2 separate regions of the Homo sapiens genome follow, and region 2 is linked to region 1. The links come from fine-mapping of genetic effects on gene expression. A gene starts in region 1. The other region holds a variant in brackets. All regions are shown on one strand. Distances are between the middles of the regions.

Region 1 (5,516 bases):
GAAGGTGATGGTAACAGTAGCTGCCATTATTAAGCACCTACTACATGCCAGGTGTGTTAAGAATGTTGTTCTGGCTCCTCACAAGTGCTGGAGAGAGGCGCTACCGTAGTTACCATGATGGAGGCACAGGTTGGTGTCAGACCTGTAGCTGAGTGGTCAGGGCACAGACCTGACTGAAATCCCAGGTCTGCCTCTTACCCACTGGTGGGACCCAGGGCTGCTTTCTAAAGCCCTCTGTGTCTCCACTTCCTCGTTTGTAAGATGAGGAAGGTAATAATAGTGGCTGCCCCATAGGGAGGTGCCAATTGTCTATGCAGGCCAAGTGCTTGATGGTGCCCTGAGCCCAAGCAGGTGGCATGAGGGTCCTGTCATCCTGGAGGTCCCAGTGGTGCAGTGATGATGGCAAGGCCGGGGCTGGGGCCCAGCTCTTTGTTTTACAAAGGAGGAAACACTGGGTGTTGGTGGGCGGGGGTGGGGTGTCAGGGAGAGAGGATACATCCACCATGGCCTTTTCTGATGAGCTCCGTCTAGTGCCCATCCCGCAAAACATACCTCCCTTTAGAATTGAAGGGATCTCTGGCAGGGCCCCTTCGACCTTCTCTAGGTGTTGCCAGCAGCTTGCAGGGCTAGTGCAGGACTAACGGCTCTGAATTGCTCTTACACTGTGTGTGCCCAACTGCCCCCCAACCCCTCACCATCTCTAGTGCCTGGCACTTCACAACCAGGGAGCACTTGCCAGGGGGAATCAAAGCAATCAGCAGGTCCCTTCTCAACGTAATGGACTCAGGTCTTTCAAGTCCTGATGGACTTTTAACCACTCTTTGCTGCCAGCGTATCCATTTGATTGAGAATATTCAATATTTCCCTCATCCAGACTTGTCTCTCTCTGAGGCACCTTTCCCGCTCCCCCGTATAGGAATTCATTGCATTTTCAAAAAGCACAAAAATGGAGATTCCTGCCTCGTTTCAACCCTGAATTTAACAAGGATCATTTCCATGGAAACCAAAAAAAAAAAGGAAATGAAATAAGGACGAATATCTCATTTATTTCCCTGCAGCTCTCATCCCCTGCTCATCCAAGCCTCCCTCCTTCCAGATGAATAGGAACAGGTTACAGCTGACCCAGTTTCACTCCCAGCTTCAGAAGATGAATCACGGTGGGTTGGCGGACAAGGAATGGGGCAAGCTGGGGCAGCGCGGAAGGCAGTGCTGTTTTCAGGAGGCCTGACCTCTGTGGCCAGAGTCCCCGTCAGCACCGCTTACTGCAGGCCAAGATGCCTCCCACCCTCCAGAATCCGACCGCGGAGGGAGCTTCCAGTCCAGGAGCCTGCGGGAATCCTGGCGGGGGCTGAGGGCTGCAGCCCCCCTGGCCTGGGCATTGGGTGCCTCTTAGGGATCTTGCCTGGGTGCCCTAAGGGGTCACCCGGTGTCCGTCCTGGAGGGCCGCAGAGTCAGCGCAACCTGCCCTGGTGCTCGGTCCTAAGGTCAGCTCTGCTTCTCCCGAGTGGGGAGGGCGTCACGGTTTGCCTGCAGTGGGAGCGTTCCGTGTCATTCAGACGAGCAGGTGGGAAGGTCGGCAGGAGTGCAGAGAAGAGACGCGGGAAGCGGGATGCAGAGAGGTGGGCTGAATCAACCAGGCGCAGGAGGAAGCCACAGTGCCCAGGGGAGGCAGGGGGATGGGGGAGGAGGCGGGAGGCCCCGGGTTCTTGCCCTGTGGGCCGCGTGGGCGCCCAGGAGCATGGTGGGCGCCGGCCTCACTTGGACACCAGCACACGGACAAACTCCTCGTAGTTCACCTGTCCGTCTCCGTCCGTGTCCGCGGCCCGGATCATCTCGTCCACCTCCTCGTCACTCAGCTTCTCCCCCAGCCGGGTCATGACGTGTCGCAGCTCGGCGGCGCTGACGAAGCCGTTGCCGTCCTTGTCGAACACGCGGAAGGCCTCGCGGATCTCCTCCTCGTTGTCCGTGTCCTTCATCTTCCTGGCCATCATGCCCAGGAACTCGGGGAAGTCCACGGTGCCGTTGCCGTCCCGGTCGATCTCACTCATCATGTCCCGCAGCTCGGCCTCCGTGGGGTTCTGGCCCAGGGACCGCATGACCGTGCCCAGCTCGCGGGTGGTGATGCAGCCGTCCCCATCCTTGTCAAACAGGGAGAAGGCCTCCTTGAATTCTGTGACCTGCTCCTCAGTCAGCTGGTCGGCCATGCCAGGGGTGGGGGCGTGGGTGGCAGAAGAGGCCACTGTGGGGTCTCCCTCCCAGTGCCGCAGCCCGGCTGCTGTCCCAGCTCTGGGGTGGCAGGTGGAGATCCGGGCGGCCGGCGGGCTGTCTCGCCCTGGCTTGAGACGCTGGAGCTTAAGAAGCAGCAGAGTCCTCCCCCATCATTGGCAGACGCCCCTGCCCTGCGGTTGCCCGGGCCTGTCCTGTTTAGACAGGAGTCCAGGGCCTGCGAATCGAGCTGACGCCAGCACCTCTGTGCCTGCTTGCACCTGGACCCAGCAGAGCCACGGGGGCCCCGAATCACACCTGCAGTCAGGGCGTGGTGGGTGAGCTTTGGAGCAATCCACGCTGGACTCCTTCCTCCTGAATTTCCCTTTCTCTCCTCCCTCCCCGTCTCCCACCTGCCGCCTGTCTCCCACTCAATAAACTCCAGTGCCCTTTCTTCCCTTGAGTGGAGGGCTTTTTGCAGGATGAAAGGCAGATGAAAGAAACGTCCTTGCCTTTGGTTTCTAAAGCCTCATATAGAACAGGAGGGTTTTTGGAGGAGGAAGGTTTTCCCTTCAGGTAGAAGCAGCGAGTTTTCTTATCTTCAGAATGGACATGAATAGGGAGGGGTTTCCTCCAACCCATTCACTCATCCACCCTTTCACAGATATTTGAGTGCCTACTAGGTGCAGTGTCACTCTGGAAGCTGGGAACACAGTGGGACCGGCAAGCCACCCCCAGTCCTCGTGAGGTTAACTAGCAAGACAGCTAGTTTGCAGGTCAACTGATCGAGGAATGCAAACAAGGTGACTAGGGATTATTGATAAATGCTGATGGACATACAAGGTGGTGATGGACAGGACCCCGAGGTCACCTTTCAGCCTGGTCAAGGACAGACCTCCTGCTGAGAAGCAGCTGTCTAGGCCGGAGTGGCCATGGCAGGGCCAAGGGCTGGAAGATGATCAGTGGGGCTGCAGGCCTGTGAGGGAGGGGACAAGGAGGAGAGACAAAGGAGACCTTGAAGGGCTCAGCCAGGAAGTCCCACTATCATTCTCTGGTCCACATTGCCCCAGGAGCTCCGGGCAGCATGGAGCTGGGGCTGTGGAGCGGCCTCTCCCAGAGGAGACCCGCTTAGGGGGATAGTGGGGTGTTCACAGCACAGACTCGGCTCCCACTCCCAGGGGGCCTGGAGACATGACCCCCAGAGAGGCAGGAGCAGGCGCTTCACCTGTGGGAATCCAAGAAATCCACACTGGGGGAGAAACATGGAGCCCACTCTATTTTTTGCTGGGTGTGTGGGGGTGGGGTAGAGACCGGAAAGGGAAAGAAAGTGTCCTTTTGAGGACCTGGACTTGCCGAGGAGAGACTATGGCAGGAGAAGGGCTCGGATATTCATTTTTTTTCTCTCTGATTTTCCTTCCCTTCTCTATTCAAGTAGAGGCAAGTGTGTCCTTCTGGTCTGGAGGGGGTCTGTGGTAGGGGGAAAATTGAAGCCACCTGCAAGACACCTTCCTTCCTACCTGAGGGCTCCCACAAAGCCTGTGTCCTGAGGGTTTGGGCAGGAGGAAGCAGGAAGGTTGAAGAATCCCTCCATCCCCATGGAATCTTTTCCTTAGAAGAGAAGTTTGTGGACCCCAGAGCAGCAGGGCTCAGGGATGTGGTGGCCACAGGCAGCCTTGGCAAAGAGCCCTGGGGCCCAGGGGTGGCGTGGAGGGAACGAGGTGATGGGCATCTTGGAAGCCACGTGTGTGGGTGACACTTTGGTGACCAGATCCCACCCTCCCCTCCTTTCTCACCCCAGAATATTCGGCCTTGCCTGAGACCTCACACCCCAACAGCTCTAGGGGAGTGGGGAGATGGGCTGGCCAGGACTCCCTGGGGTAGGAGAGGGGCTGATAATAAAGTTTAGATTTAGAGAGAAAAATGAGGCAGCATCTCCATTTGCAGGCTGGGAGCATGCCCTGGGCCCAGGTTACAGCTCTGTCCACAGGGGGCTGCGCAAGAAAGAGTGTGTGCTTTGCTCCTGGGAGCCCCGCCCTTCCTCGAATATTCTGGAGATCTCTTTTGTGGTGGGGAGACCCAGCAAAGGCTGCACACACAGCTTGCTCAAGGTCACCCCATGAAAAGTTCAGCTGGGGATCAAGGTCCCTTTTTTATTTTGGGGTTTTTTGGGGGCTAATTCTGGGACATGGGGACCTTCTGTCACCTTCTGAGAAGGGCTCTTGATTGTACACTGGTGCCTGATGCCTGAGTGTTAGAATTCATATCCCAAACGCACTTTAAAAATATTTAAATATCTCCGCTCTAGATCACCCGAATACCCAAAAATAGCAGGTTAGTAACAAATACCTGAAATTTCCTCCACACCATGAAATAATACACAGCCTTTAAAATGAGGATGAGGATATAACAATGGAAAGGTTTCCATGGAAAATTTTTAAAAAGCAGATAGAAAACTGTATATGTGATATGATTTCATGTATTAAACATTTATATATGTTTATTTATATACATTCACAGAAGAAACGCCTAGATAATCATGTACCAAACTCTTAATAGTGGATACTTTGGATAATAGGATTATAAGTGCTTTTAATTTTCTTATAAATGTAGTATCTTTGCTCATTTAAAAATGTTTTATATTTGCCATATATCATTTCTATTATTAGGGGAAATGACTGAAGATTCAAAAACCATCCCTGATAAAAAATATTCCATATCTTACTGAACTCCCAATATTCTTTCTCTTTCTCTGAGGTTAGGTAATGTGGAGGGCCTGGTAATATTGTCAGCTTTATATCTCTCAGAGATATGAGACTATGGTGAGCATAGCTATTATTATGTATAGAAAAGCAGAATAATTAATAGCCAATAACCACACCCCCTATTTGACTGCCAGAGTGACCATCTAGTGGAAAAGATGCTATGAAGCATTTTTCTTCTACTTTCCCTGCCTAGGGGCTGGAGAGACTTCTTCATGAAGGAATACAGGGACAGTCACAGGAGACAGGAGCACCAAGGGATTCGGACATGTGGCTGACACAGTCTTCTGGAGAGCCCCGGATGGCATCAGGGGGAAACCTGGCCTGAGACAGTGCCCTGATGGACAAGGACAGGAATACGGTCATACCTCCTGCCCACTTGACCAACGACCAGGATGAGAAGCCAACAGGTAACTGCTGGTTTCTGGGTCATGGCTCTGTGGCTCAAACATTAGCTTTTACCTAAATGTCCTTCTCAAAAAGGCACACTGAAAGAGGACTCAGTGCCAGGTGCAGTGGCTCACACCCATAATCCTACCACTTTGGGAGGCC
Region 2 (5,000 bases), 430 kb before region 1:
CCGCCTCCCACCAGCCGCCAGGTTAGCACTCGCTTTGCCCCAGGAGAGGTCAGTTCCCCATTGCTGCTTCTGAGATCGGGGCTGAGATCCGGCACAAGGCAGCTTTATACCATCAATCCAAAGTCAGGATTCACTGGGCAGCCTGCTGGCCCCGGCCACCAGCCACGGCGTCCTGGCCTGACCTCTTTCTCCGTGGCTTTCTCTGTGGCTGGGGCAGCTGCAAAAGCAAGCCCACACCCCCCCAAGATGTGACAGGGCCAGCCTTATCACCCGCATGGCAGAGCCTGTGCAGCTGGGAGTGGCATCTGTGCCCTCCTGCAGTAGGAGGTGGTGAAGCTGCCTACAGTCCGGGGCCAGGATCTGTGGAATGGAGGAGCTGAGGGTAATGGGGACCTTCTGTAAGGCTTATCTGATTCTTAAGTGTGGCCAGCACCTCAGTGAGCTACCCTGCTTGTTCTTTGCTAAAATGAGTCTGGTTACGCCAGCCACGAGTCTCCCAGGGTGCTAAGATGGGAGCCAAGCCATGCAGATTTTCTCCTGCTTCATGAGGAACTAGGACCTCTAGGACTCGAGCCGTGATGCTGTCCTCTCTTTTCCGCAGGTGTGTATCCACAGGGCCACAGCGACACCACTGGTAAGTGTGTCCCTTTGTCCGGTATGTTTATGATCAGGGTGACCGCAGTCCCAGGGTGCTGGGTGGTCCTGGCCCAGGCCCGCTGCCCCAGCACAGCCCTGACAGCAGCCCCTTCCACACTCAGAAGGCCTCCATCAGATAATAAGTTAAGTAATAGCTGATTTATGGAATTCTCTGTTTGATGTGCCCATTTTTCTAAATATTGGTAGCTTCTAGCTGTCAGGCTACTGGGGTTGAACCCAGAGAGCTGGCACCCCAAATAAGGGCTCAAGGTCAGCTCTTCACAGCAGGGTGCACCTCTTTTGCATGGAGCATCCAAAACTACAGGTGCTGATGCCAGCACTGACGTTACAGCATCTCTGCCAGAAGCTGCCAATTCCTCTCCAGGGCGTGGCACCGTGCACTTAACAGAGAAGCTGTCCACATTTTCGGTATAAAATGCTACTCTTGGCCAGGCATGGTGGCTCACACCTGTAATCCCAGCAGTTTGGGAGGCCGAAATGGGAGGATTGCTTGAGGCCAGAATTTGAGGCCAGCCTGGTCAACATAGCAAGACCCCATCTCTATTAAAAAAAAAAAAAAAGAAAAAGAAAAAGAAAAAAAGTTAACAAAACAAAATAAAACCAAAAATCTGCTCCTCTTTACAGAAGTCACACGCAATGCTAAGGCTAGGAGAATAGAAAAGAGAACGTGCAAGTGATGATAAGGAGGAAAAGGGGAAAGCGTTTACAAGACTAAAAGAAAAAGCTGAAGGGAGGGGAGGAGAGCTGAGAGAGGAGGGGAGAACAGGAGGAAGAAGGGAAGCAGGCAGGGAGGAAGAACGCAGGTAATGAGAAGAATGCAAGTCATGCTCCAGGCTGACAAGCTTCCAAAGTAACAAAAAACCCAACTGTAATTTGATATGGACAAAAATTATTTTAATCTTCTGTTCATAAATTTTTCTGCTAGAGAATGACTCATATTTTTGTGGTGTCATTTTTACCTGCATCAAACGTCATCTGGGAAAACATCAAGTGACTTTGGACATTTTAGCAGTTAATTGATTAGAATCGTTTAAAAAACAATCAGGCTGGGCGAGGTAGCTCACACCTATAATCCCAGCAGTTTGGGAGGCCGAGGGGGGCTGATCACTGGAGGCCAGGAGTCCCAGACCAGCCTGGACAACATGACAAAACCCCATCTTTACTAAAAATACAAAAAATTAGCCAGACATGGTGGCACATGCCTGTAGTCCCACCTACTCGGGATGCTGAGGTGGGAGAATTGCTGGAACCCAGGAGGCAGAGGTTGCAGTGAGCTGTGATCACACCACTGCACTCTGGCCTGGGCAACAGGACAGGACCCTGTCTCAAAAAAAAGACGAAAAGCAAATCCCATTTCTAACTCAAAAATCCCCTTGCAGGAAGGAAGCAACACTTGCTACCAGATTTCCAGGCATCCTTCCAGAGAGACTGTATAAATAAACATATAGAGGATAAGGAATGCTGGACAGTTGCTTCTTTTCTCCTTTTCTGTACCATGTTTGTTTCCACTTGCTGGTATACCTTGTAGATCCTCCCATATCAGGACACAAAAACCATCTCATCGTTTTTAACAGCTACAGAATATTCCACTGTATGGAATTCCTACCATTAATTTAGCCAACCCCCTATCTGGACATGTGATTGCTACATTCTGTTGTTATCTTACAAACAGCCATTAATTGAAAATCCATAGGTGCAAGAACATCTGTAGGATAAAATCCTACATATAAAGTTCAGGGGTCATTTTTTCTATATACATTTTCCAACAACTATTTGATGATGGGCTATAATCTATAATCTGCTTTTGCTAGTTCATGACTTTTATTAGATTAAAAAATCAGCCGGGCGCTGTGGCTCATGCCTGTAATTCCAACACTTTGGGAGGCCAAGGTGGGCAGATCACTTGAGGCCAGGAGTTCGAGACCAGCCTGGCCAACATAGCAAAACACCATCTCTACCAAAAATACAAAAATTAGCCAGGTGTGGTGGCAGGCGCCTGAAATCCCAGCTACTCAGGAGGCTGAGGTAGGAGAATCGTTTGAACCTGGGAGGGGGAGGTTGCAGTGAGCAAACTC[G/C]AGCCGCTGCACTCCAGCCTGGGCAACACAGTGAGATTCCGTCGCAGAAAAAAAAAAAAAAAGAAGAAGAAAAGAAAAAGTTGGCCAGGCGTGGTGGTTCACGCCTGTAATCCCAGCACTTCGGGAGGCTAAGGCAGGCGGATCACGAGGTCAGGAGTTCAAGACCAGCCTGCCTAACATAGTGAAACCCTGTCTCTACTAAAAATACAAAAATTAGCCGGGCATGGTGGCACCTGCCTGTAGTCCCAGCTACTCGGGAGGCTGAGGCAGGAGAATTGCTTGAACACTGGAGCTGGAGGTTGTAGTGAGCTGAGATCACGCCACTGCACTCCAGTTTGGGCAACAAAATGACACTTCATCTCAAAAAGAAAGAAAGAAAGAAAAAGTTGTAGGTAGACTGGACGCAGTGGCTCATGCCTGTAAACCCAGCACTTTGGGAGGCTGAGGCAGGTGGATCACTTGAGGTCAGGAGTTTGAGACTAGCCTGGCCAACATGGTGAAACCCCGTCTCTACTGAAAATACAAAAAATTAGCCAGGCGTGGTGGTGTGTGCCTGTAATCCCAGCTACTCAGAAGGCTGAGGCAGGAGAATCACTTGAGTTCAGGAGGCAGAGGTTGCAATGAGCCGAGATAGTGCCTCTGCACTCCAGTCTAGGTGACAGAGGGAGACCCTGTCTCAAAAAAAAAAAAAAAAAAAATTGCAAGTGAAAAAAAAATGAAATTGGAAGGAAAATGGCACTGTGTGCTATTGTTTCTAAATCTGTGAAGTTGAAGCAAAGTGGGCGTTGTACTGGGGACAGCAGAGGAGGGGTGTGTCCCTGTCTGCTTTTTCAACCCTGGCTTTAGCAGCAGGAATGCTCTCTCCTCATCGCACTCTTGGCTTTGCCCTTGAGGCTCTTACTGCTCCCTCCTGACTTGCTCCGTCCCTGCCCCGTCACCCCAGGCACTCTGCCTGAGAAGGACAAGGATGAGGAGCAGAGGTGTGGGACGACTGGGAGCTGGCACCCTCAGCAGGAAAGAGAATGTGTTTTTGCCTAGACATAGAATCGGGGGAATTGCATGGACCTTAAGAAATGTCCTTAGCAGGAGGCTGGTTGGGAGGCACTTGGATCCCTCTGTAAGAACATCCATGGTAAAGAATTTGTGGTTCGTAGCAATGAATGTGCTTCTGGGTATCTCAGCGTGGTCTCCTCCCTTTCAGTGGCTATCTCCACGTCCACTGTCCTGCTGTGTGGGCTGAGCGCTGTGTCTCTCCTGGCATGCTACCTCAAGTCAAGGTGAGTTGCACTGGATACTCCCTCTGCAAGAGTTAGACTTCCCCATGAGAAAAGAGCTGCACCTGGCCGGGCGCGGTAGCTCACGCCTGGAATTCCAGCACTTTGGGAGGCCAAGGCGGGCAGATCACTTGAGGTCAGGAGTTTGAGACCAGCCTGGCCAACGTGGTGGAACCTCGTCTCTACTAAAAATATGAAAATTAGCTAAGCTTGGTGGTGCACACCTGTAATCCCAGCTATTCGGGAGGCTGAGGCAGGAGAATCGCTTGAACCCGGGAGGCGGAGGTTGCAGTGAGCCAAGATTGCGCCACTGCACTCCTACCTGGGCAACAGAGCAAGACTCTGTCTCAAAAAAAAGAAAAAGAAAAGAGCCCCACCATAGTGATTCCAGAATGCCCCCTCCCAAGAAGGACGCCTTTCCTGGCCATCGGCTCTCACACACCCCTTCTCTAGGAGCCAATGAGTGCCAGAGCCGAGGAGCAGTGAGCTAGGCCCAAGCCCAAGTGCCCCCTACCCCTGCTCATGGTAGAAATGGGGCGGCCAGAGAAAGTGCACCAGGTGGCCAACGCGTGCAGTCCTACCCATTCTTCTTGTGATACCCTCATGAATATATTCTTGAAAGTCCTCATTGAATAGGGGTATGCCTTCTTATAAATATACTGATTCATGTTAGCCTTAATTTTGTATTTCTAATCATTGAAATTCTGCATCTCAGCATTTCTGGCAAAAATATTTCTGCCACTTGCTAACTTTTTTAATTTTTCTCATTTTTTTAATCTTTAGGCAGTATTATTATTCTTTGATTAAAGCCTCAAATGGCATTCTAGCCTTCATTTTGTACTTCTATCAATTAGTAACCAGTATTCCAGCATTCCATACTGATACGGATATCAGATTTGTCCAAACTAAACTTTTAGTTACTATTAATAGTTATAAAACATTCTTTTCTAAATGTGATATCAATATAAAAATTATGTGACCCTGGCTGGGCACG

Evidence for each region. PIP is the estimated chance that this variant, and not a neighbour inherited with it, causes the effect. A credible set is the group of variants that fine-mapping cannot tell apart.
Region 2: its variant is the best candidate, but not a certain one, in a credible set for the expression of CALML3 in minor salivary gland (GTEx, PIP 0.53).

Annotation. Positions count from the first base shown.
Region 1 is chr10:5,521,774-5,527,289 of GRCh38, reverse strand. CALML3 (calmodulin like 3) reads right to left here and starts at 2,329. Exons shown (of 1, transcript NM_005185.4): 1 at 519-2,329. The coding sequence starts at 2,204. The coding sequence ends at 1,755. CALML3-AS1 (CALML3 antisense RNA 1) reads left to right here and starts at 1,044. Exons shown (of 3, transcript NR_120497.1): 1 at 1,044-1,157; 2 at 5,161-5,374. RefSeq lists enhancers at 624-1,324, 1,325-2,024.
Region 2 is chr10:5,955,388-5,960,387 of GRCh38, reverse strand. IL15RA (interleukin 15 receptor subunit alpha) reads left to right here. Exons shown (of 7, transcript NM_002189.4): 4 at 1-21; 5 at 602-634; 6 at 3,934-4,009. Among named protein-coding and RNA genes, the nearest start is that of IL15RA, 20 kb to the left of the region's middle. The variant G/C (reference allele first, on the strand shown) is at 2,733.